3 linked regions of the Homo sapiens genome follow. The protein of the gene in region 1 interacts with the protein of each later gene in a biochemical or structural test. Each region holds a gene or a part of one and is shown on either strand. Other genes may lie near its edges.

Region 1 (7,383 bases):
CCTATGTTCTAGGAGCCCCGACCCGCAGTCACCAACGCCGGCACCCCCAGGCGGGTCCTGCTGACCTCTTGCCCACAGCTTTGTCCACATTCAGGGGCAAAGTACAACAACCAAATCCAATGCAAAGTTAAGTGACGACAGAGAACTCGGGTGGACAGACACAATGCGGAAAACAAGACAGAATTCAAGTACCGAGGCACCCAGCCAGGCGCGGCCCGCCGGGCTCACAGTATCTGTCACACCTCCGGTCCCTCCTGGACCTCTCCATGCAACCCAGCTGCCTCCTGGGCCCATCCCCTTGGGGAAGAGGAAGGCAGGGCAGGAGAGGCGGCTAGATCCCAGGCCCACCACCTGCCAGGCGGCAGCTCCAACACGGTCCAGTCCCTTCTGTCCTCCTCAAAAGGTGTGGAGATAACGTAGCTCTGTAATAGATTCTATATAGGATATGCGTATTGCTAATAGTCAGGCTTAGGGATAAAGGTGCAGACATCTCATAAATACTGAGTGGCTCGTCTCTCTCTACAGGGTCTGGATGAGTCAGGGTCACACTCACAGGACAGGACAACCCCGGATTCTAGAATTAGTCATCTTGTAAACAAAGGAGGGAAGGGTCCGGCTTTCTTAATTGGTTTCCTTGGGAAAAATGATCAAAGGATGCTAAGGCACTCTGGAAGGCCCCTCTGAGCCCGGGCCGCCGCCCCCGCCCCACGGTACATTCAGGACGTGGAGGGAGCACACAGCAGGTCCGCTCAGCAGCCACGCACGTCCACAGACACTCCCGACTCACGCCCACCGTGGGACACATTAGTGCAAAATGCTCGGCCTGGCCCGCCCGGGGCGCAGGGAGAGCTCAGAACCCATTCACATTAAATTATTATTATTTAAGTTTTATCTATAGCTCTTGCCTTCCTTACCCAGAACAAAACAGACGGCGATTACAAACGAGTGAGGAAGGGGCACGGGACATTGTGCGGGCCTGAACAGCAGTCAGGCGTCCTCTGTGCAGCCACCACCTCCGGCAGCAGCCAGCGGCTCCCTCCCTGTCCTGGCCAAGGGTGGGGGGGCACCCACTTTGGAGTGGAGGGCAGAGAGAGCCCTTCTGTCAGCAGCCAGGCCCCCAGGGATGGTCAAATTAAAGTGCAAATTTGGGTGTGGGGCAGATGAAGGAAACTCCAGAGGGAACTCAAGTGCAGCTCAACCTCACCTACCTGCCCCTGCTCCACCCCGCGGCTTCCTCCCATCTCCGAGGAAGGCTTGGTCCAGGTTCCCAGCGGGCCCCATGGGGGCTCCAACCCCACCTGTGCCCAAGACAGGGGAGGAAGAGGCAGAGAAAGGCTCCCTCTAGGCTGGGTGGTTCTTAGTTCAGCAGAAGGTCTGGATGCCTCTGCACCACTGAGCCACCTGCAGCCCTAGGAATGCAGGTCTTGGTCCCCCTGGACGTGGGCCCTGAGGAATGGGTGGAGGGGCCGAGGTTAGCGTCCACAGTGCCTGCCCATGGTCCCCCACCTCCTTCTGGAAAGCAACGTATTTTTCTGGAGGGCAGGCATGTGCTGGGCCTGGCTGGAGGCAGCCCAGGAGGCTGAGTGCTGTCTGTAGAGGCGGCCCCACGGGAGGTCTCCTAGGGCCTCGCCACAGGGGTGGGCTTCGGGGCAGAAAGGAGCCGCCCAGTGGGAATGCGTCTAACCCACACCCTGTAGGTCCCCAGGCCAGGGTGCAGCACATGGTCCTCCCCTAGCGGAGGCGGCCTCCGCTTGATGGGTTGTGGAGGTTGGGGGAGTGGGGTGCGCTGGTCGGCCACCGCTCACTGGCCTGTGTGCACACCGGAGGGGGTGCTGATGGGCGCAGGGCTGCACTTGTTTTGCAAGTGAAGATGGGGAAGCCGAGTTCTGGAGGGACAGAGGTGAGCAACAGACATTTCAAGTCTTGGGATGGGGGGTTCTTCTGGCCACACCTGGGAAGGAGGGCTGCCCCTGGACAAGGACACAGGCCTCCAAAACAAAAGGGAGGGACACCTGGGTAGGTGGCCACACCAGCACTTCACACAGGACTTCACACAGTCTGTGAGCCCTACCACTTAAAAAACAGTAATTAAATTTCAAAGGAAGCACTCCAGCCTCAAACCAAACAGCCCCATCTTCCATGGGCCCTTCCTCCACTGTCCCTGGCCCCCCAACATGATCCCTAACCCTCTGTCCCCTACCAGTGCCCATACCTCCAACTGCCCCAGCCCAGGCCTGTCCCGGTCATCCCCTGCCTGCAGCCTCAGGCACCCTCCATCCATGCACACCCCTCAAGGCAGACGGGGAGCCCAGCACCGGGAGGACCGACTCTCGCCCTGGCCCAGCCCTGGCCGCTGCCTCCTGCCCGAGCGGAGTCCCCCGCTCCCCAGGTCCGGCCCTGAGCTCAGCTTCACACGTACTAGTCGCCCACCCGGGACCCCCTTTTTCCCCCAGTGGGAGACGAGTGGTCCCTGGCCCTGGGCGGGGGAGCAGGGGGACGCACCCTAACGGCCACAGATGACCCACCCCAAGCCATGGTGGGCTGGGGACAGGGACACCCATCCCACCCAAAGTTTTTGTTCTATTGAGTCTGAAAGTTTCCAAACCATATATGAAATAGATCTAAATTACAACAAAACCTAAAAAAAACAAGACAAGCATAATCCCAAAGTGGCTGAGGCGGCAGAGGGCAGCGTGTGCTACATCAGCTGTGCACGTCCCACAGTGGGCCCGGGCGGGACAGTGGGAGGCCAGGCGGGGTCAGCGGTGCCCTGGGGGTCAGGGGACCGAGGGGCTGCAGAGCCGAGACGGATCGGGCAGAACAAGGACAGGGTGTGGGGGCAGAGTAAAGTACCCTTTTCTCCACCCCGAGGGGTGGGCCACAGCCATCACTGCCCCCTCACCACACCCCTGCACACACACGCACACACACACACTCGTGCACACACCCCACACAGGTGGAAGGCCCGGTGGGCCTGGCCCCGAGTCTCCGAAAGAAGGAAAAACGAGGAGTTAGGCCCTGGAGCCTGAGCCCTGCCCCGTCGCCCCAGAGAGGTTCCATGGGGAAGGAAGGAAGGGTCAGTGACGCACAGCCCAGCCCCCTCGCCACAGACCACCGCCGGCCCCTGCTTCGTCTTCCGGGCAGGAGGAGCAGGAAGGGCAGGGAGGAAGGGGCAGGGCTGGGCACCAGGGGCCTGGCGGCCTCCCACCCTCCCCAAGAAGGGGGAGGGAAGCTACACTTGGAGGCTGACCTTGTGAATATCAAAAGGGAGCCCTGGGAACTTCCTCGCAGGAGGCTGCCAGTGGCCTAATTGTTTACAGTATAATGAATGCATTTGTTTCCTTCATCAATTTTAAATACAAGCAGAATAAAAATCACATTTTTCTCAGGCAACAGTAGCAGTTCAGTAGGTAAGTGGCTTGATCACATTTGTTTGTATTAGTAACGCATGCAAGCAGCTCTAGTACTCGGTCCCTCGCGCAGCCACCCAGCTCCGCTTACAAGGTCCCTGCATAGGTGCCCTCCGGCCTCCGGGCCGCGGCCGCCGGCGTCTGGGGCCTGCTGGGGCCGCCCCCGCCCTGCTCAAAGGGCTGTGGGGGGCTCTGGCCATCGGCGGGCAGCGGCTCGGGGGCGGCCACCTCCTGGATGACCGAGCCAGCCCCGTCCACCTCCTCGCCGGCGTCGAAGGCGGGGTTGGCGGCGGCACTCAGGTCAACATTCACGGCGTCAGTTCTCAGAGCCACGATGGTGGCGGCGTCGCCCCGCCGCTCGGCGTAGATGCGTTGCTCGAACACCTGTGCCGCGGCAGGCGGGAACTCGGGGTCGAGGGGCACGCTGGCGGCGGCGGAGCCCATGACCGTGCGGTACATCTCCACGCCCTCCGGCAGCATGGACTTGATCTTGGGCAGCCAGCGCTTGCGAACGCGGCGGGCGTTGGTGCACATGTCCGCGGCGATCACGTTCATCTCGCTCTCCTTGAAGCTGGGGGCGAAGTTCTGACAGTACACTGTGAGGACGGGGCGGCGTGAGCTCAGCCACCTGCCTGCCGGGAGGCCCGCCCCTCCCCAAGGCCACAGAACCATGATGCCCTGGATGAGCCTCCCCGGCCGCTCCTGGGGCCCATGTGACCACCTGGGGCTCTCCTGGCCTCAGCCAGAAGACCAGAGGTCACGTTTCTCACTGCTCGGCCTGGGAGGCCTCCCCACCCCATTCCTCTGGAACAGTCTCTGGCCTGGTCAGGCCCAGCAGCCTTGGCCGTCCGCCAGCTGTGAGGCTCAGGCCTGTTTTTAATCTCTCCGGGCTTCCGTAGCCCCAACGGCTAACGGGAACTGGTCAGAGGGTCCCCCTTTCGGGAATAACACACCCCTCCCCGTCCCAGTCCCAGCCTGGAGGAGGGGAGTGACAGAAGCCATCACTTCAGCAACACTCGCCTCCTTTCTCTGGCAGGAGCCCAGGCCAAGGCCGGGTCATTCCTCCCAACGGCATCAAACCCAGAGGCAGGTCCCAGGGGCCACGTCCACCTCGGTCCCTCCCAGAATCTTCCCAGAGCCTCGGCTGCCACCCCACACTTGGGGACTGTAATTCCTGGCTGCAAAGGCCCCTTTTTGCTCTAAAACAGAATTTGCCTCACAAGGTTTTTTTTTTTTTTTTTTTTTCTTTTTTTTAGGAAGAAAACAAGATAGTGCTTCTTGGGCCGAGGGCCACAGGAGGCTGTGCTCTTGGCCACCTGGTGCGAGCCGGCAGCAGTCAGCATCTTCCACATCTGGGGCGCGGGCCGGGGGCGGCGGTCTGCCCTGGAGATGGACCGGGCTCCGCCCCCACACGCCCAAGAGCGGGAGGCAGAAGCCGGCCGAACAGATGGCAAAGGCTCAAAATAACCGCAAAATGTAAATAAGGGGTTTTGTTCAAAAAGGAAAATTAGATCTATTTCACATATTAAAATAGTTTCGCAGCTGAATTCATCACACTTGGAAACCTACCAAGAACGTTAACACCTCGAGACCTGGCTTCTGAGAGCTGCTCTTTTCTCCTCATCTTCCCCTCAATCAGACCATGCTCGGCCCCCAGGGACGGAAGCTGCAGGTGGCCGGGAGCACCCCCGCGGCCCACCCAGTCCTCCTCAGGCTGGGATCTGAACCCAGCCCCGGCCCCACCCACCCGAGAGACCCCCAGGCTCTTACATTTCACAGCGTTCAGGACCCGGCTGTCCAGCGGCTTCCGGCTGGGGTCGCTGGTGGACGAGCGGATGCCAGTCCCGCAGCTGTTGGCCAGCGTGTTCCTGGTGGAGGGACCGGAAAGGCAGGCAGGGTGAGGATGATGGGGAGGGTACCTGGAGGCGACCCGCCCGCACGAATGCCCTGCTGGGAGGCCACTTGGCCTCACCCTTGGCTGGTCTGCGTGTGTCCCAGTGGCAGGAGCCGGCCCAGCCACCCTCTAAGGGACAGGACAAAGGAAAAGCGTCTGGGCTGAGAAGATGACCGGGTGATGGGGCTGCAAGGTGACCTGAGCCTTGTCCTCAGGGACTCCGGGGACGTCTGAGGAAGCCGCTGTGTCCTCGGGAAGGGTTCTGTTGGCCCATCAGCACAACAGAATAAGTGTGGCTCTTCATTTTTCTGTTGTGGGGGTTGCATCCACAAGCCCGTTTGAGAAAGGCCACGAAAGACAGCCCCTCCCTCCCTCCCTGGGAGCCTCTCCACCGTCCTGGGGCCGACCGGCCACGGCTGAAGTCAGGAATGCGAGAGGGCTTTCAATGCCACAACCCTGGACGATCAGACAGCTCATAGCTAAAGGAGCCAGAACCCTCCGCAGCTCCATTGTGCCCTCCAGCACTCCTGCCCCGACCTACCTGTCAAAGAAGGTGGCCAGGAGCCTCCGCAGCAAGACCTTATGCTTCACCCCTGCACACAGGTGGCAGTTCATCAGCTGGCCGCGTGTGATGTAGACCCCAGAGCCTGCAGCCACCAAACAGAAAAAGGGCTCGTGGCCTTCCCGGGCCATAGGGTCCGAAGAGGCGCACAGATGGGTGAGGGGGAGGGGGGGAGGTGGAGGGGGAGGAGGAGCTGGAAGCTTCTAGGACTTTTTTTGGGGAGGAGCAATTTGAGGTCCCACCTGCTGGTCACCAGGAGAGGCCATGGCCAAGGCCAGCCCCAGCAGGTCCCAAATCACACATGGAACTAAGCAGGGGGTGGGGAAAGCCACAGCGCCCCCCACCCTCCCCAACGAGCCCCAAACTCCAAGCTCTCCCGGCCATGCTGCGGTCCCCGGCCTCAGCTCCCTCCCCAAGAACACACTTTGTTGTTGTTTAGAGACGGGGTCTTGCTCTGTTGCCCAGGCTGGAGAGCAGTGGTGCCATCATGGCTCACTGTAGCCTCGACCTCCCGGGCTCCAGTGATCCTCCCACCTCAGCCCCCTGAGTAGCCGGGACCACAGGCGCCACCACCATGCCCAGTTAATTTTGATGAAGTCTCCCTATGTTGCCCAGACTGGTCTTGAACACCTGGCCTCAAGCAATCTTCCCACTTCGGCCTCCCAAAGTGCTGGGATTACAGGAGGAGGGGCACTGCACCTGGCCTAGGGAACACACTCTGAAGGGCTGGCTGTGGCCCTGGGTTTGGGAAACACTCATGTCTTTGCCTTTCTGCTCCGTCCCAGATACCAGAGAGCCCTCAGGCAACGATGAGGGAGACGGAATCCCCTGGCTGGAGGGTATGGCTGGAGCTTTGCAGGGCCCAGTGCTGACCTCCTCTGGGTATGTGTGAAGAGGAAAACCAGCTAGGGCAGAGGCGTGGCCAGAGAGGTCCACGCTGTGCTGTTTACCCTCGGAAACTTGACCACACCCCAGGTGTCCCACCAGGGTCTGGGTGAGCGAGGGCATGGACAAGCAGCAGGACTGAACCCTCTGGGAACAATGGGGAGGGAATGCTTTCTGGGGGCAGCCAGTCTCAATGACCATGAGATGTCATGTCCTGAAGGACACGATGTCCAGGTGCGCCTGCTTCCAGGAGCCTGTGAGTGCCCATGACCTCTTCCTGCCATGGCCCGTCTCCTGCCCCACCACTCCCACAGGCCCTTCCTGCCAGGGTCTGGGCTGGAGGAACTCTCCTGAGGAGCTCATAAACTGAAGCACGTCTCCAATCCCATCAGCCCCACACCCCAAACAGAGGCCACAGCTGCTGGAGGCTGGGATGACCGAGAGCATCTTCCTGGGACCACACCTATGTGAAGCACCAGGGCCCGCGTGGGCACCTGCGCCCCAGAGCCCAACCCCAGGGGCCCACCCAGCCGCCCCGGCAGCCCAGCACTGCGCTCGCCATCCAGAAGCAGTGCCGGGGCAGGGTGGGAGCTCAGGCCACAGCAAGGTGGGCCCCTACCCCTCCTGGCCAG
Region 2 (7,283 bases), on another chromosome or scaffold:
CCCAAGTGGCTGGGATTACAGGCATGCACCAACACACTCAGCTAATTTTGTATTTTTAGTAGAGATGGGGTTTCTCCATGTTGGTCAGGCTGGTCTCAAACTCCCAACCTCAGGTGATCCGCCCGCCTCGACCTCCCAAAGTGCTGGGATTACAGGCGTGAGCCACCGCACCCGCCCAGCCAATTCCTTTCAATATTATGTTCCCTAGCTTCCTCCTTCTAAACCTGGAAGAGGAAAATATTAATTCACTAAAAAGGGAAAAATACACATTATGACTCTAAACATAAAAAGGGTCTGAGTTACATAAGTGAACTGCTCTTTCAGAGGCTCTAAGCAATTTGAAAATATCTGCACACTTTTAAATATTCAGTAACAAAAAAGCAAAAGAATATTCGGAATTCAGAATCGTGCATAACTCTCTAAAATCTCAACTTTTTTTTTTTTTTTTTTTTTTTTGAGACAGTGTTTTGCTCTGTCACCCAGGCTAGAGTGCAATGGCGTGATCTCAGCTCACTGCAACCTCCACCTGGATTCTCCTGCCTCAGCCTCCTGAGTAGCTGGGATTACAGGTGCATGCCACCATGCCTAGCTAATTTTTTTGTACTTTTTTAGTAGAAACAGGGTTTCACCATGTTGGCCAGGCTGGTCTTGAACTCCTGACCTCAAGTGATCCACCCCCTCCTTGGCCTCCCAAATTGCTGGGATTACAGGGGTGAGCCGCCATGCCCAGCCTAAAATCTCATCTTTCAAAGAGTCTGGGACTGAAAGTAAAATCATCTCTTATGCCCCTTTACCCAGCTTATTTTTATTTTTTTATTTTTATTTTTTTTTGAGACGGAGTTTATCTCATTGCCCAGGCTAGGGTGCAATTGCACAATCTTGGCTCACCGCAACCTCCGCCTCCCGGGTTCAAGCGATTCTCCTTCCTCAGCCTCTCGAGTAGCTGGGATTACAGGCATGTGCCACCATGCCCGACTATTTTTTTTGTATTTTTAGTACAGACGGGGTTTCTCCATGTTGGTCAGGCTGGTCTCGAACTCCCGACCTCAGGTGATCCGCCCGCCTCAGCCTCCCAGAGTGCTGAGATTACAGGCATGAGCCACCGCACCCAGCCATATTTTTACTTTTTATATTAATTAAAAAAAAATAAGAGATAGGGTCTCACTATGTTGCACAGGCTGGTCTCCAACTCCTGGGCTCAAGCTATCCACTCGCCAGGCCTCCCAATTTACTGGGATTGCAGGCATGAGCCCCCACACCAGGCCACCCTTTACCCAATTACCCATCAAGGGAAAATAAATATTTTTAATATTAAAATTAAGAACACTCAGTGTATACCTTGTTGAGTTCTTCTATCCTTCTTATTAGGTATGGGTTGCTGGAGGAATTCTCAAAGTAGACATAATCTGTAATTAAAGGAAGTACAGAACTTAATCTTTTTAACAGAAAGTTCAGATTTGTCAATCCAAGACTTTTTATGTTAGGCATTTCACGTTTGAAATTAAGCTCATAATTCATTCACTGGTAAAAGCAAACATAATAATGCAGCCTTAATATATCCTCTCACGTGCCTACTATTCACAGACCTTTATTTTCTTGGCATTTTCATTTCAATTAATGTTTTATCAGTTTCTCCTAGACTTCTGTCCCAATACGTCATTTCTTTAATAATAAACAAAAAAGACACCTCTTATCACTGTGTAGTCAGGGCACGCTAAACATGTGTCCTCTGTACTATAACTACTTCCACATCTTTTTCCTCCAATACAATTTGCCCTGCAGGCTGCTTCTCACATAAAACTATTGACCTAAGACACATTCAGAGCAGGGAGAAAGGCTTCACAGTCCAACCTACATTTCAATCACTACTTAAAAAAAAAAAAAAAAATCAGATGAGCAGAACAGGTTAAGAGGAAGAACGCTGACAAACTTTTCCACAGTTTTACCTGGGAAGATGAGGAAAAAAGGGGGCCGGGGGATCACTTCTAAGAGGCAAAGTGTTCTGGGGGTGATATCAGCATCTTTTTTACCCTTTTACCATATTTAATCCAGATCCATTTAATGTCTTGTGATTAAGAAATTGCTGCAGGCTTTCAACTAAAAGGATAAAATTTTTCAAGTGTGGCTTTTCCTCTCATCTAATAGGCTTGCTGGAAACTTCCCACTGTGTGTTTATCCGAAAGGCAGCTGCATTGTTATTGTCTATCTTAGTGGCTCTTTCGCCGCTCTCTTCTGCAAAGTGGCCTCATTTAGCCAGGCCATTCCCACCACCATCCATCAGAAGCTCGGCTAATGAGCAGAGAAGGAAGAGCCAGTCTCTCATACAAACACGCCACTTATCTGAATTATTATTTTACCAGGAAAGAGGGAGGAGGGCGTCGTGAGTAGGGAGAAAGTTTGTTTGACCTTATTTCTCTCTTCCGCAGAAGACTGGGAAGGAGGCAGGCAGCAGAGCAAACGTCCAGGCAGAGCTCAACTCCCCACCTCCGGCTGAGGTTCCCAGCTCCCACGAAGCCCCATTCGTGGGGGACTGGACCAGAAACGAAAAGGAGGGGGGCCGAGGAAGGGGAGGTGCAGGGCCCCGGCACGCAAACAGGCCCGTCCAGCTGGGCCCCTGGCTGGGCCCCCACCGCCCCCACCCCCACCCCCACCCCAGGCTCCCACTGAGTGGGGAAGAAGCAGGAGAGGGGATGTCCCCTCATCCTCTCCAGCGCCTAGAAGCCACGCAAGAAGGCCACCTTCTCAGGGGGCTCGACGGGCCCTACCCCGATGAGGGTTTCGTGGAGGGGGGTGTCTGGTAATTCGTACCCCCAAGTAGAGGCCTGGCCCTAAACACTGGGCGGGGTGCGAGGGTGAAGGTGGCCCCGGGCCCTCGCGAGCCCGCGTGGGGGGAGGGGAAGGGATGGGTGGGGGTGGGGAGTCCCGGCCCCTCTGCGGGCCCCGGCGCCCCAGCCCACTGCGACCTCAGCCCCGGCGCCCTTGGCTCCCGGCAGTTGGCGTGCACTCGCCCCGGCCCCCCGCTCCCGGAACCCGCTCCCACACGGGCCGGGTCGGGCCGAGCCTGCCTACCTCCGACCCGGTACATGTTGGCCGCCATGTCCGCCCGCCCGCCCGCGGAGCCCGAGCCGAGCCCCGCCCGCCGCCGCCGCCTCCTCCTCAGCCTCAGCCGCGACCGCCGCTGCCGCCGCCGCCGTCGCTGCTGCCTCGCCACGGGGGGGAAGGGAGGGAAGGGAGGGGACAGGGGGTGGGGGAAGTAAAGGGGATGGTACGCCGAGGGGTGGGGGCTGGTGCCCGCCCCCAGCGCCAGGCTAGCAAGGCCGAGTGGGCCGGGCCGGGGGAGGCCCGGGGAGGCTGGAGCGCTGCGGGGCCAGCGGGAATTGGGGGGGAGGGGGAGGGGAAAGGGAGTGGGAGTGGGAGGGAGGGTGGGGGGCCTTGCTGGAAGTGGAGGGCCCTGGGGTCAGGGTCCTGGCTGAGGCAGAGGCCTGCACTCAAATGCGGACCAGGGGCTGTTAGAGAATTAGAGTGGGGGCTGGGGCTTAGCCTCTCCCCAGCACCTCTTCCCCCACCCAGGGTACCCCGTCACCTGTCCACCCCAAGACAGGTCCTCCTTCCCTACCTCTGTCCCTGGGGAACCCCCCTGTGGCTGCCCTAGTAGGCAAGCGCCAGTCTCAATGCAAACTCTTGGATGCAAATAAGTGCAGGCAGCAGGGTGCCTTCCTCGCGGTGAGATTCAAGGGGCCGGCCTGGAGCCTGCAGGCTCTAGGGCCAGGAAGATTCCGGGTGCTTCCCGCCTCGCCAGAGACCCAGCTGGGGACAGAGGTAGAAAAACTCCCTTCCTAGGCCACCCTAACTGCGTCATCGTTTACCCCAAAACTGGGCTGAGCAGAACCAACTGTCCAACACCCAGATGGAGGCCCTGGCTCTAGACGGGCACTGTATATGCAGGGCCTGTTCTGCTGGGAAAAGGGACCTTTAGGAGTGAGGGGCTTCCTTTGTCCATGGGGGAACAGGGCCCTACAGTTCACAATCACCACCACCCCCAAACAGAGGAGATTGTATTCAATCAGTTTCATGTCGATGGACACTTAACTGGTTACGTGCCTAAAGCTTCTAAATGGTTATTGTCCCAGGCCAATTCTCTAAACAACCTCTGTTTTCACGGCCTTCCTACTCTCACAGATACAAAAAAAAAAAAACAACGTTGAATCTTAGCTGGCGATCCCCCAAATGAACACAAATAACTTTCTTTAGAGAAGCCAGTCCATTCCAAAGTACTCCCAGACATTGCTGCATAATAAACACGAAGAAGATTTCTTGGTGTGGTGGCTTGTTTGGAATGTGTGGTGATACACAGCTGTGTGCTGTCGACTCTGGGTTTAAGGTCTGTGCGGGGCTAAGAGGTGCCCCCAGAAAAGAAGGTTGTGTTTTGGTGGTTTGGTGATGACATTTGTGATGGTCACTTATCACAAAGTATTGAGATGAAAAAACTGTGCATAGCTGAGGCAAAATATAAAAATAAAAAATAAAGCACTATTGAATTACATTGACTCTATGACCTGTTTCCTCGTCTATAAAATGGGGACGTGAGTTCCCCCTTCACAGGTGTGGTAAGGATCAGTTGCGATGATATCTGAAAATGCTTTGTAAACCAGGGAACACAGAGCACCATGCAAATAACAGGTGTCTCTTGCTTTCTTTTTAACCCCAGAAAACCACAGATTCCCAAGGGTTCTCTGCTGTGTGTCAAATTCTGAGCCATGTGTCAAATTCTGACCCAAAGAAGAAAGCAAAAGTGTTCTGTTCCACACATTGCATAGCTGTCATTCAACATTTACCAGAGATCCCACCAAAAACATTCTGACAAAACTGACATCACTCCATTTCTGAGCTGACACATAAATAGGGTTGAATAATTCACCTGGAATCACACAGTAAACTGGCAGCAATTTTGGGATTATGAATCAGCCCTTTCCTCTGGCCTAGAATGTTCTGAACCACAGTGTTTCTCCAAGTACAAAAGCCACCTAGAAACCATAAAGTGCAAAGAAGTGGATCACAAGCTTTAGGATGTTTTCCCATTAATTTTTCATAAGCAATTTCTCCTCCTTCGAAATCTTTCCCTGTTTTTGTTAATTCATTGTGTGCCTGTCTCATTTCCCAAGCTTAGTGCTCTTGCCAGGTGTTTATGATGACTGTGCTAACCACAATAAATGGTGAAAGATGCCGAGAAAACTCCTCCCTATGTCCCCTTAGGAACAGCCTCATCCAGAAGCCCCCCATGAAAGGCCTCAAAGACTTGAAGGGGACTAGCAGGAGGTAATGATGGTGGCAGGCCTTAGAACCGTTTTTTGCTCTAGATTCTATATATTAGTCTCTTCCATGTCCAGCTCCTAGGCCAATGTCCTCTACATTTCTGAGCTGACACAGTAGATGCTCAGTATCTGAAGAATAAATACCAACAAATCGTGGACTCAAAGAATCAGAAGAGCTGAATACAAGGACTTTGTGAAACTTTTATATGTCCTAATTCCAGAGAGGTTCACACATAAAGGAGTTCAGCAAATGTTTGTAGATTGAAAGAAACCTTTCAACCAAAGACGGGTGGAAAGCCTGCACCTTTAAAAAAGCAAAGGCGCCTCTCCCTTCTTAGCTACATGGTTTAGACCACAAACTTGTCATCAACCAGCCCTAACTTCACTCCTAGTTTGGCAGTTTAACTATAAAGACCTTGAGCAAGTTACTTAACCCCTCTGAGCCTCAAGAGGGGTTACAAAATATGACTACTGGTTGATACCTACCTCAAAGGCTTATGGTAGAAAAAAAAATTTTTTTTGAGACGGAGTTTCGCTCTCGCTGCCCAGGCTGGAGTGCAATGGCACGATTCGGATTCGGCTCACTGCAAGCTCCACCTCCGAGGCTCAAGCAATTCTCCTGCCTCAGCCTCCCAAGCAGCTGGGACTACAGGTGCCCATCACCACGTCTGGCTAATTTTTGTATTTTTAGTAGAGACAGGGTTTCACCATGTTGGCCACACTGGTCTGGAACTCCTGACCTCAAGTGATCTGCCTGCCCAGCCTCCCAAAATGCTGGGATTACAGGCATGAGCCACCATGCCCAGCCTGGTAAAATTTAAATATAGAAGGTGTTTGGCACTTGTTGGGCGCTTCATATGCGTTAGGTCCCTTCTCTCTATTCCAGTTATTCTCATCACTAAGGAAGAAGTGTCTCTCAGGCCATGCCAGAAATCCCAGGGCAAATCCAGCCCTTCCATGGATGAAATTTCCTTGCACAGTTGTTGCAATTAAAGAACCACATACAAGGTAGTTCTTTACCATTTAGTTGAAGAGAAGTGGATGCAGCAAGAAAGCTATAGGTGGCTAGGCATGGTGGCTCACGCCTGTAATCCCAGCATTTTGGGAGGCCAAGGCAGGAGGATCATTTGAGCCTAGGCAACATGGCAAGACCCCACCTCTACCAAAAAAAAAAAAAAAAAGTTAGCCAGTTGGTGCGCACCTATGGTCCTGGCTACTCTGGAAGAGACTGAGGCAGGCAAATCGCTTGAGCCCAGGAGGTAGAGGCTGTGAGCCATGTTTATGCCCCTGCACTCTAGCCTGGGTAATAGAGCAAGACTCTGTCTCAAAATAAATAAACAAAAGAAAAAAAAGAAAGCTTTAGGTGAATAGGTAAAATGGAGAGTTGGTTTTTGTCTCAACGTAGGGATGGAGTTTTTATATGTGCGAAAAAATAAAAAGAGATTGGTGCCGGTTGGCTGAGCGCGGTGGCTCACACCTGTAATCCCAGCACTTTGGGAGGCCGAGGCCGGCGGATCATGAGGTCAGGAGTTCGAGACCAGCCTGGTCAATATGGTGAAAACCCATCTCTACTAAAAATACAAAAAATTAGCCGGGCATGGTGGCAAGCGCCTGTAGTCCCAGCTACTCAGGAGGCTGAGGCAGAAGAATCGCTTGAACCCAGGAGGCAGAGATTGCAGTGAGCCAAGATCACACCACTGTGTTCCAGTCTGGGCAACAGAACGAGACTTCATCTCAAAAAAAATAAATTAAAAGAGATTGGTGCTGGCCACAGTCTGGGAGTTCTGTCATACTGAACCCAGGACAGGAGCCTGGAGGTCTAAAATGTAATTAATCTGAAACCAGAGGCCAGGCTTTGGAAAAGGGACTTTATCTTGTTGGTTCGTGTTTTCCATGATTTATTTCTCTCTTCTTTTTCCTTTCATTAACTTCTTCTCTTATTTAGTAAAATTCTTTCAGAAAAGGCCAGTC
Region 3 (7,383 bases), on another chromosome or scaffold:
GCAAATTTGAGTTTCAGATAAACAGAAATTTATTAGTGTAAGTATGTCCCAAATATGGCATGGGACATACTTGTCCCAGAAGATTCTTATCTGACATTCACAGTTATCTGGGCAACCCGTATTTTAGCTGGCAGGCTACTCCGAGGCCCTGCCAGGTTGGGCTAGGCAGGGTGAAGGTGTGGTGGCAGTATTTTTGTGCCAGCTGAGCTGGGTGAAGTGGTGAGCAGGGAGGGAACAGGGCCTGTTTCTTCCCCATGGAGTGCCCTGGCCACGGACAGAGGCCTTCTGTCTGTGCCTGTGAGGGCAGCGGATGGCCTGGGCAAGGGTGGCGGGGTCAGGGTTCCCTGACCTCTGCTTCTCAAGGGTTGTCCATCCCGAGGGCTGGGGAAGGCTTGAAACCTGCTGTGGGATGAGAGGGCCCCAGGGCAACGGCGGGATGTTTCTTCTCTGGGTTGAACATGAAGATGTTAGATAGCATCCAAAACAGGACAGCAGGAATCGGTGCCTGCCAGCCGCCTGCAGCTTGCTCATGTGGGGCTTCTGCTTTTCAGTGGACAGGCCATTACCATTTTGCCTTGGGTGTTTCTGTTTTTCATTGCAAGAGGTTAACACCCCATCTTTTGGATTTTTTTTGTTTAATTTTTTTTTTTTTTTTTTTTTTGAGATGGAGTCTTGCTCTGTGGCCCAAGCTGGAGTGCAGAGGCGCGATTTCGGCTCACTGCAACCTCCGCCTCCCCGGCCCAAGCGATTTCCTGCCTCAGCCTCCCAAGTAGCTGGGACTAGCCAGGCGCCACCAGGCCTGGTTAAGTTTTACATTTTTAGTAGAGACGGCGTTTCTCCATGTTGGTCAGGCTGGTCTGGAACTCCTGACCTCAAGTGATCCACCCGCTTCGGCCTCCGAAAGTGCTGGGATTACAGGCGTGAGCTCATGCCCGGCCTTTTTGTTTTAATTTTAATAAAAGTTGAGGCTGGGTGACAGAGTGAGACTCCGTATCAAAAAAAAAAAATTTTAATGTAGTTTGAAAGGATGCCAGAAAGCCCCTGCCCCTGCAGGGCCGCGGGCTCTGCCCCGGTCTCTGGCGCAGCCTGGGCGGAAGCACCCTGTCCGTGCTGCTGGTCTTCACTGGGCTTGGCATGTGCCATCATCTGCGCTCTGGCGCGCTGTTAGAAATGTTGCTTTTGTATTTTTATTCTAGTGTTTTTTTGAAGTTTAAACTTTATTGCTCTATATACTTGCCAGTGGGGAAAAAAGTAAACTTAAAAAAAATGTCAGATTTGTAGAGGGCTGCAGCCAGCGCCGCCCTACCCTGGAGTGCTGAGTGCACCGTGTCCCTAGGCACTTGCTGCTCCATGGGCCGACTTTTGGGGTCCCACCCATCTTTTCCAAGAAGGCAGGGAAGAGCCCTGGAGACACGGCCGTCCTGTGAGCACCAGGAGCGGGAGTGGTAGAAGTGGCAGGGGCCCAGGTGTGATGTCCTGGAGGGGATGGCATGGGGCTGTCCCACTTGGCCTGTGAGGATCGGCCTCAGCACTGCGCCATTGGCAGCCCTGGCTCACTCTCCAGGCAGGATGGGCCACTGAGCTTCTCCTGCCTCAGCCACTGAGCACTCCTGGCTTGCTCCACCTTTGTTTTTTTGAGACGGAGTCTCGCTCTGTCCCCCAGGCTGGAGTGCAGTAGCGCAATCTGGGCTCACTGCAAGTCCGCCTCCCGGGTTCACACCATTCTCCTGCCTCAGCCTCCCAAGTAGCTGGGACTACAGGCGCCCGCCACCATGCCTGGCTAATGTTTTGTAATTTTTTTTTTTTTGTAGAGACGGGGTTTCACTGTGTTAGCCAGTATGGTCTCGATCTCCTGACCTTGTGACCCACCCGCCTCAGCCTCTCAAAGTATTGGGATTACAGGCGTGAGCCACTGCGTCTGGCTTTTTTTTTTGTTTTTGAGACAGTCTCACTCTGTCACCCAGGCTGGAGTGCAGTGGCACAATCGCGGCTCACTGCAACCTCCGCCTCCTGGGTTCTAGTGATTTGCCTGCCTCAGCCCCCTGAGTAGCTGGGATTACAGGTGTGCACCACCACACCTGGCTAGTTTTTGTGTTTTTAGTAGAGACAGGGTTTCACCATCTAGGCCAGGCTGGTCTCGAACTCCTGACCTCAAGTGATCCACCCGCCTCGGCCTCCCAAAGTGCTGGGATTACAGGCGTGAGCCACGGTGCCTGGCCCCATATTGTTCTGAGTGGAGAATTTGATCGTTAAGCTCTCAGAATAATAAAAAAGTAGCTGTCAGTGAGAGATGTTGGAATATATGGTCCAATGAAGCACATCCCTCGCGCCCGACCCGCCCTGGCAGTGCCGTTCCCGCCCGTGTGTGTGGGTTCTGGGTGTCAAAACTGCTGCAGTGGCCCTGCAGGCATCCTACCTAGAGGTGGGTCCCCAGCTGCGCATCTGGACGCTGGTCAGCAGGTGAGGCTGGGATGCCAGAGGAGGTGCCGTGTGCCTGGCCAGGTACCCGGGAGGCGGCTTGGGGGAGCACTGGCTGCAGGGCCTCCTTCCTCCTCCTGCTGAACTTGGAGTGCTCTTGCCAGATTATGGGCTGAGTCCTGCTAGGGAGGGTGGCCCCCCTTCCCCAGGAGGAGCCCACCCTGAGACCTGGTTGGGGGGCAGCTTAGACCCTACCTTAGACTCCAGCAGGCTGTCTTGGGAGCATGTAATTATGTTTTTTTTGAGACAGGGTCTCCTGTTGCCCAGGCTGGAGTGCAGTGGCACCATCACAGCTACTGCAGCCTCCACCCCACAGGCTCAGGCGATCCTCCCATCTCAGCTTCCTGAGTAGCTGAGACCACAGGTGCACACCACCATACCCAGCTAATTTTAAGATTTTTTATAGAGGCGGAGTCTCACTATGTTGCCCAGGCTGGTCTCGAACTCCCGTCCTCAAGCGATCCTCTTGCCTTGGGCTCCCAAAGTGCCGCTGGGTTTGCAAGGCTGTGAACTACCATGCCCGGCAGAGCATTTAATATTCTCCAAATGTCTTTCCTCGTGTGCTACCTGGGCTCACTGCTTTCTGGGGCTCTCGTGTTGCTGGTGTCTCCACCCCCACCCCCACCCCAGCTGGCCTGCTCCATTCCTGTCCCGGTGGGCTCATGTCTGAGTGTGCGGACTGGGGGATCTTGGTGGCGATGGAGCCAAGCCCAGGGAGGCTGGGGCCACCCTCATAGTGCAAGGCCACCCAGCACCTCGCCCCTATACCCCACCCGCCCCACCAATGTGCCCCCGGCACCCCCGAGCCCAGGCCCCAAGGCTTGCTTCTATGGGCTTTGCACCACCCTCTAGGCTGCTCCCGCCTGGGCCATGCAGCGCACCTGAGGGGTCTGAGGTGACCGCTCCTCAGAGCCGCCCGGCAGCCTCCCTGGGGCGGGCCTCAGCACTGCAGCCCCGTGATCCGGCCTGGCGTGGGCTTTGCTGCTTTCTCTGCCCGGTGGCCTGAGGAGCTCGAGTGCCCGCCTGCCCCCAGAGCCCTTTCACGGTCAGGGCCTGAGCTCTGTGGGTGCCATTAGGAGGAGGGTCTGCAGATCTGTGCGGTTGGGGGACCCCTGGGGCATGGAGGGGACCACGCGTCCCTTCCCGTCCGTGCCCTGCCAGGCTGTCCTCACAGCAGCGTCGTCACAGGGGAGGAAACCAGGGCAGCGGCAGCGGCTCCTGGTACCAAGCATACCTTAAAAATGAGCCCATGGATGTTGCAGTGAGCCGAGATCACGCCACTGCACTCCAGCCTGGGTGACAGAGCGAGACTTCGTCTCACAAAAAAAAAAAAAAAAAAAAAGAGCCTCAAGGCCTGTGCAGTTGGTCAGCGGTGGAGTCAGGTATGGGGCACACCTGATTCTGCCCTGGCTCATCCCCTGCCTTCAGAGGACAGCAAGGGCGCAGCGCACGTGGGGGCTGGCCCTGAGGTGTGGCGTTCTCTGGGCTGGGCTAGGGCAGTTCTGAGGGAGGGGCGTGTTCTGTCCCATTCCTCCAGGAGACACAGTGCCTGGGCCATCTGGCCACTTGCATGAGGGAACGTCTGTCTGCATCCCCTGGGGGCCGCTGTCCCCATCCCTTGACTGCCGGATGCACCTCGGATGCTGGGGCTCTGGTCTCCGATCCTTCTTGGACTTTGTGGGGACAGCAACGGAGGAGGATGACCCCAAGGATGGGCCGGGCGCGAGGCTTGCAGCAGTGCCCAGGTTTTGCAGATAAAAATACAGGACACCCCTGCAGCATTTGGGACGTTGTCACATGGAGACCCGGCTCCTGGAGCAGGGGTGCTGGGGGCTTTCCTGACCACTGTTGCTGTTTCTCTTGACTCTGTTCCCAAAAGGGAAAAGACAAAGTTCCTCTCTGTGCTCCCTGGTCTCCTGTCTCTGACCATGGCAGACCTGGCTGTGGGTGAGCTCAGGAGAGTGGGCTGTGCCCTGGAGGGTCCCGGACAGGCAGGGACCACGGGCACCGCCCTGCCGCACAGCTCTTGTTGCTCAATGATCTTGGGGGTTGTGTCTGTTCTCCCCCAATTCTTCTGTGGCCCCATCCCCTATTTGTTAAAACTTACGTGTAACCCCAAAATTCACACTTATGTCACTTTCCCAGTCATTTGCGGGCACGCACAGGCTGCTAAAAGCCCAAGTTGCGTGGTGCTTGGGTGCCTGCTGGGGTGAGCGAGGCACCCTGCCCTCTGCCACTGCTCCCATGTTGGAAGCAAATTGTCCTTTCTCCATCTACTGAGGGCCATGCTTCTTGCATTTGGGGGCTCTTGGTGATTTTGCTTTTTAGATGCCCCTGGGGGAGGTGCCGCAGTGCTGTTGAGTGTCCCTGGACACAGGCAGGCTGGGATGGGTCCCATGGAGAGAACGTGTGTTGGACAGGCTCTGCCCCACGTGAGTTCAGTGTCGGAGAACAATAATAATTATAAAGTTCTTTGACAGAAACGTAAAATAAGGCTGTTGCGTATTGATTGGTTGCTGAAAATGTTGTGACCAGAGGCTCGTAGGAACCTGACCCTGTATTTCCTGTAGGAACAGAGGTACGGTGTTCAGTATTAGTGGTGACTTTATGGAACGTAATTACTGCAAACAATGAGAATTGACTCTGGGTGCGTGTATATTTTTTTAACTTAAAGTAAGGTTTAGGCCGGGCATGGTGGCTCACACCTGTAATCCCAACACTTTGGGAGGCTGAGGTGGGCAGATCACTTGAGCTCAGGAGTTTGAGACCAACCTGACCACACAGCAAAACCCCATCTCTACTAAAAATACAAAAAAAGCCAGGCGTGGTGGTGCGTGCCTGTAATCCTAGCTACTTGGGAGGCCGAGGCATGAGAATCACTTGCGTGCAGGACGCAGAGGTTGCAGTGAGTGGAGATCGCACCACTGTACCCCAGCCTGGGCAACAGAGTGAGACTCTCTCAAAAAAAAAAAAAAAAAAAGTTAGGTTTATTGAGATACACGTTTCACATGGCAAACCCACTTATGTGTAGGGGCCTGTGGTTTTCCACTCATGCACAGCTGTGTGGTCGCTGCAGCTCTTCCACACCTGACATGCTTCTCTTGTGACCTTCTGTAGTCAGCCCCCTCTTCTCCCCCAGCTCCCAGCAACACTGACCTATTTTCTGTTCCTGCCGTTTTGCCTTGTCCAGAATGTGGTAGAAGTGGAATTGCACAGCATGTGGGCTTTTGAGTCTGGCGTCTTTCTTTTTTTTTGAGATAAGGTCTCAGTCTGTCACCCAGGTTGGAGTGCAGTGGTACAGCCATGACTCACTGCAGCCTCCACCTCCCAGGCTCAAGTGATCCTTCCACCTCAGCCTCCTGAACAGCCGGGACCACAGGTGTGCACCACCACACCCAGCTAAGTTTTTCGTTATGTTGTCTAGGCTGGTCTCGAACTCCTGGGCTCAAGCGATCCTCCCACTTCGGACTCCCATAGTGCTGAGGTAACAGGAGTGAGCCACCATGCCCAGCCTTATAGTAATTCTTGAAATCAAGTAGTAGGAATCCTTGAACTTTGTTCCTCATTTTCAAAATTGTTTAGCCTGTTCTGGTTACTTGGCTTTCCCTTACAGAGTTTAGAATTGGCTTGTTAATTTCTACAGAAACCAAAAAGAAGTGTTTCTTTTTTTTTTTTCTTTTTTTGAGACAACATCTTGCTCTGTTGCCCAGGCTGGAGTGCAGTGGTATGATCTTGGCTCACTGTATGTAGCCTCAGTCTCTTGGGCTCAAGTGATCCTCCCCACTTCAGCCTCCCGAGTAGCTAGGACTACAGGCATACGCCACCATGCCTGGCTAGTTTTATTTATTTTTGTAGAGATGGGGTCTCACTATGTTGCCCACACTAGTCTCAAACCCCTGGCCTCAAGTGATCCTCCTGCCTTGACTCCCAAAATGCTGGGATTACAGGCATGAGCCATTGTGCCCAGCCTCACCTTGCACTTTTATGTGGTAGAAATGGCTTCTTTCCTTGAACTTCATGGGCCAACTTCTGCTAGCTTCAGATTTTTCTTCTGCAGCCTCCTCACCTCCCTCAGCCTTCGTAGAACTGAAGGGAGTTAGGGCCTCGCTCAGGCTGGGGCTCTGGCTTCGGGGAATGTGTCCGCTTTGATTTCCCATCCCGGCACTTCAGCTTTCTCTCTATCAGTACTAAGGCCGTTCAGCTGTCTTATCAGGCTTGTGTTCACTGGAGCAGCACTTTTTGTTTTTTGGAGATGAAGTCTTGCTCTGTCGCCCAGGCTGGAGTGCGGTGGCACGATCTCGGCTCGCTGCAACCTCCGCCTCCCGGGTTCAAGCGATTCTCCTGCCTCAGCCTCCCAAGTGGCTGGGACTACAGGCACCCACCACCACACCCGGCTAATTTTTTTTTTTTTTTTTGAGACAGAGTCTCCCTCTGTCACCCAGGCTGGAGTGCAGTGGCACGATCTCGGCTCACTGCAAGCTCCGCCTCCCAGGTTCACGCCATTCTCTTGCCTCAGCCTCCCGAGTAGCTGGGACTACAGGTGCCCGCCACTATGCCCGGCTAATTTTTTGTATTTTTTTAGTAGAGACGGGGTTTCACCATGTTAGCCAGGATGGCCTCAATCTCCTGACCTTGTGATCCACCTGCCTCAGCCTCCCGAAGTGCTGGGATTACAGACGTGAGCCACTGCGCCCGGCCTTTTTTTTTTTTTTTTTTTTTGGTGACCAAGTCTCGCTCTGTCATTCAGGCTGGAGTGCAGTGGTGCGATCTTGGCTCACTGCCACCTCCAGCTCTCGGGTTCAAGTGATTCTCCCACCTCAGCCTCCCGAGTAGCTGGGATTACAGGCACACACCACCATGCCTGGCTAATTTTTTTATTTTTAGTAGAGATGGGGTTTCACCATG

Evidence for each region.
Region 2: the proteins of NACC2 (region 1) and MTA3 form a complex in vitro, tested with the Homo sapiens proteins (one study listed by BioGRID).
Region 3: the proteins of NACC2 (region 1) and MTA1 form a complex in vitro, tested with the Homo sapiens proteins (one study listed by BioGRID).

What each region holds. Positions count from the first base shown.
Region 1 is NC_000009.12:136,008,019-136,015,401, forward strand, and holds part of NACC2 (nucleus accumbens-associated protein 2), read right to left. Parts: intron 6,749-7,383; exon of another isoform or gene 6,495-6,748; intron 5,952-6,494; coding exon 5,846-5,951; intron 5,279-5,845; coding exon 5,181-5,278; intron 4,007-5,180; coding exon 3,498-4,006; 3' UTR 1-3,497.
Region 2 is NC_000002.12:42,564,560-42,571,842, reverse strand, and holds the start of MTA3 (metastasis-associated protein MTA3), read right to left. Parts: upstream 3,212-7,283; 5' UTR 3,098-3,211; coding exon 3,070-3,097; intron 1,407-3,069; coding exon 1,339-1,406; intron 1-1,338. UniProt on the Homo sapiens protein: Acts as a component of the histone deacetylase NuRD complex which participates in the remodeling of chromatin.
Region 3 is NC_000014.9:105,422,577-105,429,959, forward strand, and holds part of MTA1 (metastasis-associated protein MTA1), read left to right. Parts: intron 1-7,383. UniProt on the Homo sapiens protein: Transcriptional coregulator which can act as both a transcriptional corepressor and coactivator. Acts as a component of the histone deacetylase NuRD complex which participates in the remodeling of chromatin.